Homo sapiens: one gene and its partner. The protein of the gene in region 1 interacts with the protein of each later gene in a pairwise test. Each region holds a gene or a part of one and is shown on either strand. Other genes may lie near its edges.

Region 1 (3,781 bases):
AATGACATTAGTATTAACCAACATCAGCAGTCTGTATTCTGTAAGGAATTGAGCTCATACAATGAATCACCTCGAGTATTTTTTAAACACAAAATTACAACAATTTATAAATGTTAATCTTTAAAATGCACTTGAGAATGATTGTCCCAAAGGTTAAGTGGAAGCTTTTTCAAAAAACAGATCACAAGGAACTATGCCAACCCTTTCCTAAAAATTTCTATAAAATTCAAAGGAAGAAATAAACAGGAAATCTAGTTTACAAATGAAATTTAATATAGTAGTCGTATATTTATAGGCCAAGAGCTCATACGTAAAATGTGTGAAGGAACACAATGGTCAGATATTGAGATGCTGGCAACTGCTCATCTGCCAATGCTGAATTTGGTAATTCCTCATTTATACAGAGGGAAATTAAGTACCAAAGGGCTAGAATAATTTACTTATTGTGGACAAAAAAGTTAAGGACAAACTAAACTTAGTCCAGATAATTCTCAGATCCTCACACACATAAAACAACTTGCATTTATTTTATTTTTATTATTTATTTATTTTTTCGAGGCCAAGTCCCCCTCTGTCACCCAGGCTGGAGTGCAGGGGCATGATCTCGGCTCACTGCAACCTCCATCTCCCAGGTTCAAGTGATTCTTATGCCTCAGCCTCCTGAGTAGCTGGTACTATAGGCGAGCACCACCACGCCTGGCTAATTTTTGTATTTTTAGTAGAGATGGGGTTTTGCCATGTTGACCAGGCTGGTCTCAAACTCCTGAGCTCAAACAATCTGCCCACCTCAGCCTCCCAAAGTGCTGGAATTACAAGCGTGATCCACCATGCTTGTCCTTGTATTTCTTTTAACAAGAGAAAGACTGTGTCTCTTCTGTTCTCCTTTGTCTTCAAGAACTGATTTTTATAGTTTATTAAATATTAAAATTACATAGCTTGTTATAAATTAATTTGTATTTTGCAGACAATAACCATTATAAATATCACTTAGATCTGCAACTATTTTTTATTAACTTTACTGTTTGCATTAAAAAGACAGCACTTTTCGGGTACAGTTAGATAGTCCAATTCAACAGTAAGAACCATTTTAACTCCTAAAACTGAACAACTGTATTAGTTATGAACACTAGATACAAGTCATGAAACTCCAGCTTGAATTTACTTAGGCAAAAAGAGATTTTATGAGAAGGATATCAGAATATTTCATGTACATAAACAAGAGCAAGGCCTGGAGTCTTATACAGCTTGACCCCAGGAACAAGGAAGCGAAGCACCCTCCCTCCCTCCCTCCCCTTTTGTGCTTTTAGTGGTTCCGTTTCAGTCACCTCCATTAGGGTGTGGGCTTTCTCACATGGTGACCACCAGCAGCTTCCAAGCCCCTGATCCACAGCTTCTACTGGCAGAAATAGTCATCTACTCTTTTAGTGCCCATTCAAAAATCCTAAGGACAAACCCATCTGCCTGCCTTGAGCTGCATGACTATATCCAGGAAGATGGAATACCCTTAGTCACAGACCACCTAAAGGGCATGGTTAGAATCCAAGTAGAAACAATTCTCCACAAGAAGCAGGGCAGGCTGCTGGACAGACAAACTGAGAATAATCAAGTAAAACAAAACAAGCACAAACTCTGAAAGCTCAGGCAATGCCAGAAAGGTCAGGTGACACAAGGTTGAATACCGAAAGTTGGCATTAAAGCATTCTTTGAGTGAGAGAGACAGAGAGAGATTTATCTATAGTTATATTTTACTTCTATGTCCCAGTAAAAATAACAAATAAATAACTTTAAAACTTGGTAATACATCATTTTTCTCTCCCCTCTCTTAGATGTTTTTCTGTCACCTTCCCCTGTCATTTGTTTTGGGTCTATAAATTGCCCCTCAAAACTTATGCAAAGCATAATGTGTTCATCAGAATTGTTTCAGGGTTGTATGCGTTAGTTTTAGGATCCAGAGCTTCGCGTGTGCTTTTTTTTTTTTTTTTTTTTTTGAGATGGAGTCTTGCTCTGTCACCCAGGCTGGAGTGCAGTGGCAGGATTTCGGCTCACTGCAAGCTCTGTCTCCTGGGTTCACGCCATTCTCCTGCCTCAGACTCCTGAGTAGCAGGGACTACAGGTGCCTGCCACCACGTCTGGCTAATTTTTTGTATTTTTAGTAGAGGCAGGGTTTCACAGTGTTAGCCAGGATGGTCTCAATCTCCTGACGTCTTGATCCGCCCGCCTCGGCCTCCCAAAGTGCTGGGATTACAGGCGTGAGCCACCGCGCCCAGCCCTTGCGTGTGCATTTCTTTATTCCGGATTCGCAGCATCATCTTTTGGGCTTTGGGAGTCTGATGTAATTTCCAGTTCATACTCCTTTTTCAATTGCTGCACTTTCATGTTTAGGTCCAGTAAAGTTCTAGCCAGCTGGTGGTTTTGGAAATGCATTTCCACCTAAAAGTTAGAAAAAAATAAAAATTTTATTAGCCTGAGATGCAGATCAAATGAAACCACTCTCTGACTACACAGAAGAAATAAGAAGTTTGTAGGAAAAGAAAATAAGATATCAAGGAAGATGTATTTCTCATCTTATTCTCCAGTTTTAACTGTTTGGTCTGGCTATAAAACTGACTTTCTATATGACAAGGTAAAATCCAGATATATAAATAGTTTTTGAAATGGCTTGAAATGAAAACAAAAGTAGCTGATGCACAAAGCTGTCCATATGAAAAATACCTATGCACCGAAGGCTGTTTTCAAGGAATAGCATGTGATCCACAATGAAATCATTTATCTTTATGCGCCTTCTGAGCCACAGGATAACTGCCTACAGCCACCTGAGTATTCAGAATCTGTGCTATTTACTTGATTACTTATCATTTCAAGTTTTCAGGATTTTAAATGGTCTACCTGCTGAGCAAAAACATTTAATGACACCTTAGAGACACATGTATAGTTATGTGTACTTATATAATCTAACATTTTTCACTCTGGAGTGAAATCTGTTTCATATCAAGGCTGATTTATACCATCCTTCAATGGGAGTTTATGAAGGTCCTCGTGCGTTTAAAAAAAGATCTCTAGGGCATGTTACCCGGGGGCAGTCCAAGAAAGCTTAGTCCAACATAATCTTTGTATTATAACTGAAAACTAATGATCAACTACTTGCAAATTTCTTCAGCTAGGGCTTGTTTAATGCAGTTCACGAGGAATTTGTTCTCTCTGCTAAAAAAGCTTCATCAGCTTGTCAATAGAAACCACCCCAGGATGAACCAGGACAGTGTGTTGGTAAAAAGCAAATATTCATGGTCATCTGATTTGCAAAATAAAGCTACTGGATAAAATTATCTTTCAGTTTTTCTCTGAGACATTCCTCTCCATTCTGAAGCACCTAGAATCATTTTTCTGACAGCAAGAATTAGCAAAGAATAAAGTAAATGAATATCCAGCAAACAAGCACTAACAGTAACCACACAACCACCACAACAAAAAACCCTTGCACCTTGCCTGCAGGAAGCTTCAGCTCTCTAGGGTGGCCCAGATGCTCTATAATCCTGCCCTACTTTGAGCTTCCTTTCCTGGCCCTCTTTCCCATGCCAGCTCCCATTGCAGCTGGTCAGAAACCTTGCCAGTCCCTAAATAAATGCTGAGCTGAAGCTCACCTCTTTCTGTCCCCATTTCTGTTTAAGATGCCCTTTGCCACCTCTCTCTGCTGAACCCAGTCAAATGCCAGCTCTTCTGAGAAGCCCTCCCTGATTGCATGGGCAGACATAATTGCCTCTCATCTGTGCATCCACAGCACTCT
Region 2 (3,500 bases), on another chromosome or scaffold:
TCTGCCCGCCTCGGCCTCCCAATGTGCTGGGATTACAGGCATGAGCCACCATGCCCAGCCTAGTAGCATATGTTTTTCTAAAGCAAATCCATGCCATTTCTAGGATGTGTGCTAGGTCTGTGGACATTTCTGGCCTCTCTAAAATTTCTTTACCATTTTTTCTCCAAAATTATCTTTCAGTTAAAATATAGCATACCCAGAAATCCTGGAAAAGAAAGATATCTAACTGCTTTTTAAAAATTACTGATATATAATTTTTTAAATGTTGTATTTAAAAAATACCAAATTAAATGTTTTTAAGGATCCTGTTTGTTTTCAATTTCACTTAGAAAATGATGCTATAGTTTAGCTTGAAATAATGGTCTAATTTTTTCCTCTTTGGCAAGATAATTTTAGATACTGAAAAAGCACAAAATAAATCTCCTTCTAGACTTGATTCCTTTGTCAAGACTTTGGAAGCAGACAAAGATCACTATAAGAGTGAAGCTCAACATTTGAGAAAGATGATGCGAAGTAGGTCTAAAAGTCCAAGACGCCCATCACCAACTGCCCGGGTAGGTTTTATAAACTTACAAATATTTTGGAGTTTGTTGCCCAGACACTGGCTTTTATTCTTTGTTTTACCTAATTTGAAAATAATTTGTTTTGATTTGCTGTGAATTGCTGTTTCAAAGGGGTTGAGAGACAGAGGTCTCTTTGATGGCACAGTAGACTACTGATATTGGTTCTTTATCCTCAGCATAATTAGCACTTGGGAGGTAATCAGGCAAATGTGGAATAATTTGGAATGAAGCTGTTTTAAAAAGATGTGGTTTTTAAACTTATTTTTTATAATTTCCTTTCATTATATAGTCTTATTTTCTTAAATAGAAATTGGGCACTACCATCAGTAGCACCTTTCTATCAGTACTATATATCAAAGAAGATTTCAAATTCCTTATATAATTATAGGGTGCAAACTGTGATGTAGAACTTTTGAAGACAACAACAAGAGATCGTGAAGAACTTAAATGCATGCTGGAAAAATATGAGCGCCATTTGGCAGAAATTCAGGGTAATGTCAAGGTTCTTAAATCTGAGAGAGACAAGATCTTCCTTCTTTATGAACAGGTAAACTTACAAAAAACAAATTATATAAGTAATAACATTGAGTTCTAGAGTTATGTAATTCTTCTTTGAGTTTTATGAGACTGCTTAAACCTGCAAATCAAGTTAATCTAACATTTGGGGATTACATATGTTTTTAAGATATTCTTAATGAAATGTAGTACATTTCCAATACAGTAGGTATGTGAGTACACACGTATGTTATCCCCATAGCCAAAAATCATACACATGTATAAAAATAGTCTTATTTTTGGAATAAGATATGAAGAAACCGTTAAATGATAAGTTGTTATGAGTTCAAGGTAAAAAGATCAAATCCTGACCTTTTTACCTTGAACTTGCCACACCTTATCACATCACTTTAGGAACTTTTATATAATTTGCTTAATTTTAGAGAATAAAAGAAGTATGTAGTTTATCTCTGCTTTCTAGCTTAGAATTGCATAGCTTTTATTAATCAAATACCTTCTTTAACCCAACAAGTATTAAATCCTATAAATCACCCATATAACTTCTTTTAAAAGTATCACAATTTTTTAACAAATTATAGCTACTATACACAGGGTTCTAGGCTCACTACTCTAAGGGATAGAAAAATGATAAGATGCTGACCATGTTTTCCTATAAATTTACAGTCTAGTTAGGGAGATAAAGTATATTGTATTTATTGATTTTTATTAAGTGGTCTAGAAGATATTATAAGAAACAAAAGAAGTGGGCATTTTTAGATATGGTGATCAAGGAAATCTTTATTAAAAGATACAAAGTGTGAGCCCTGAAAAATGAATGGAGTTTCTATTACCCTGAAAGGGGCTAGAAGGAACAATCCAAACTAAAGGAATGGTATGAGGCAAAGGATAAAGGTAGGAAAATCAGCAGATAAATAAATTGGTTTAAGACTAGAATAGAGGGTATGTGTCAGTGGAGAAGGGAGAGAGCTAAGACTTGAAAGGTAAGATTGCACTAGAGCAGGAATCAATATACTTTTTCTGTAAGGCCCAGACAAAAAATATCTTCTGCTTTGCAAGCCATGTGGTCTCTGTTGTAACTAATCAGCCCTATTGTTGTAGGGTGAAAGCAGCTTTGGACAATACATAAATGAATAACTTTGGCTGTATTACAGTAAAACTTTATGGATACTGAAATTTGAATTTCACATCATTTTTACTTGTTTTAAAATACTCTTTTGATATTTTCCCCAACCATTTAAAAATGCAAAAATATTTCTCCACTTACAGACCTACAGGAGGCAGGCTAGATGTGGCCTGTGAGTTATATATAGCTTGCTGACTTCTGGACTAAATGGTACAGGCTGTTCAATGGGCCTTATATGGGGTTTATATTTTGCTTCATAAGCAACAAACAATCTTTTTTTTTTAAAGGCAGGCAAAATATGAACAAAGTATCATTTTTACAATTTTACAATTTTAACCTTATGGCAAATTTTTATTTCTCACATAATCTTTCTATACTGTCTTCTTATTTAACAATTTCTCCTTTGAGAGAATTGATGGAGGGAGAGACCATGGACTCCTCTTTAGAAGGCTGTTACACTAGTGCACATATAAGGCATTAAGGGACTAAGCAAGGGTGTTTCAATGGAGATAAATATAGGGACAGATGCAAAAGACCCTGTGAAGGAAGATTTGACATGATTTGCTTTTAGGAAGAAGGAGGGTTGCATGACAGTGACTAAAATTCTGTCTTGAATGACTCAGCAATGTGGTAATAAAATAAAAAATAGGAGAGTCATTGGTGGTTTGAGGAAAAAGATGTGAGTTTGTTTTTAGACAGAGTAAGATAATGATAGCACACTCAGGTCGTAATTGCCATCAGACTGTAAGAAATGTGGGACTGGAGTAGAGAGAGGCAAGAGTTAAATAGTTAGCTTTGGAAGTCATCTGCTTAGAGGTGAGCTTCGAGCCTTCAGAGTGGATGAAGTCTCTGAATGAGAAAACTGTACATAGAGGAGCAGAAACGTTAAGTTATAATATTCAAGATGCAGAAGGGAACCTTTGAAAGAGACAAAGATGACAGACAGCTAGGGAGGAACAATGTTAAAAGGGAGGAAGGAATCTCAAGAAGAAGGATGTTGTGAGCAGCAACAGACCACTGAAATATCAAGGAGAACAGGAACTGAGAAAAGACCATTATATTTGGTTAGGTCTTTAGTTGAAATTCCACAGAAGGTGGGAGGGTGGGAGCCAGGTTGTTCTGGGGTGATAGAATGGATGGTAAGGAACCATTGGCAATAGTTATAGACCATGGGACTTTTTTTTTTTAATGTGTCGCAGGAAGAAGAGACATAGGATGGTAAATTGGTCAGCAGGATCAAGTGACAGGTTTTCAAGATAAGGGAGCACTGTACATGACTGAAGGCAGGGGAGAAAGTG

The links.
Region 2: the proteins of AARD (region 1) and TSGA10 interact in binary tests that used the Homo sapiens proteins (3 or more experiments, as listed by UniProt).

The regions. Positions count from the first base shown.
Region 1 is NC_000008.11:116,941,207-116,944,987, reverse strand, and holds the end of AARD (alanine- and arginine-rich domain-containing protein), read right to left. Parts: intron 2,431-3,781; coding exon 2,287-2,430; 3' UTR 501-2,286; downstream 1-500.
Region 2 is NC_000002.12:99,106,443-99,109,942, reverse strand, and holds part of TSGA10 (testis-specific gene 10 protein), read left to right. Parts: intron 1-386; coding exon of another isoform or gene 387-503; coding exon 504-554; intron 555-951; coding exon 952-1,110; intron 1,111-3,500. UniProt on the Homo sapiens protein: Plays a role in spermatogenesis. When overexpressed, prevents nuclear localization of HIF1A.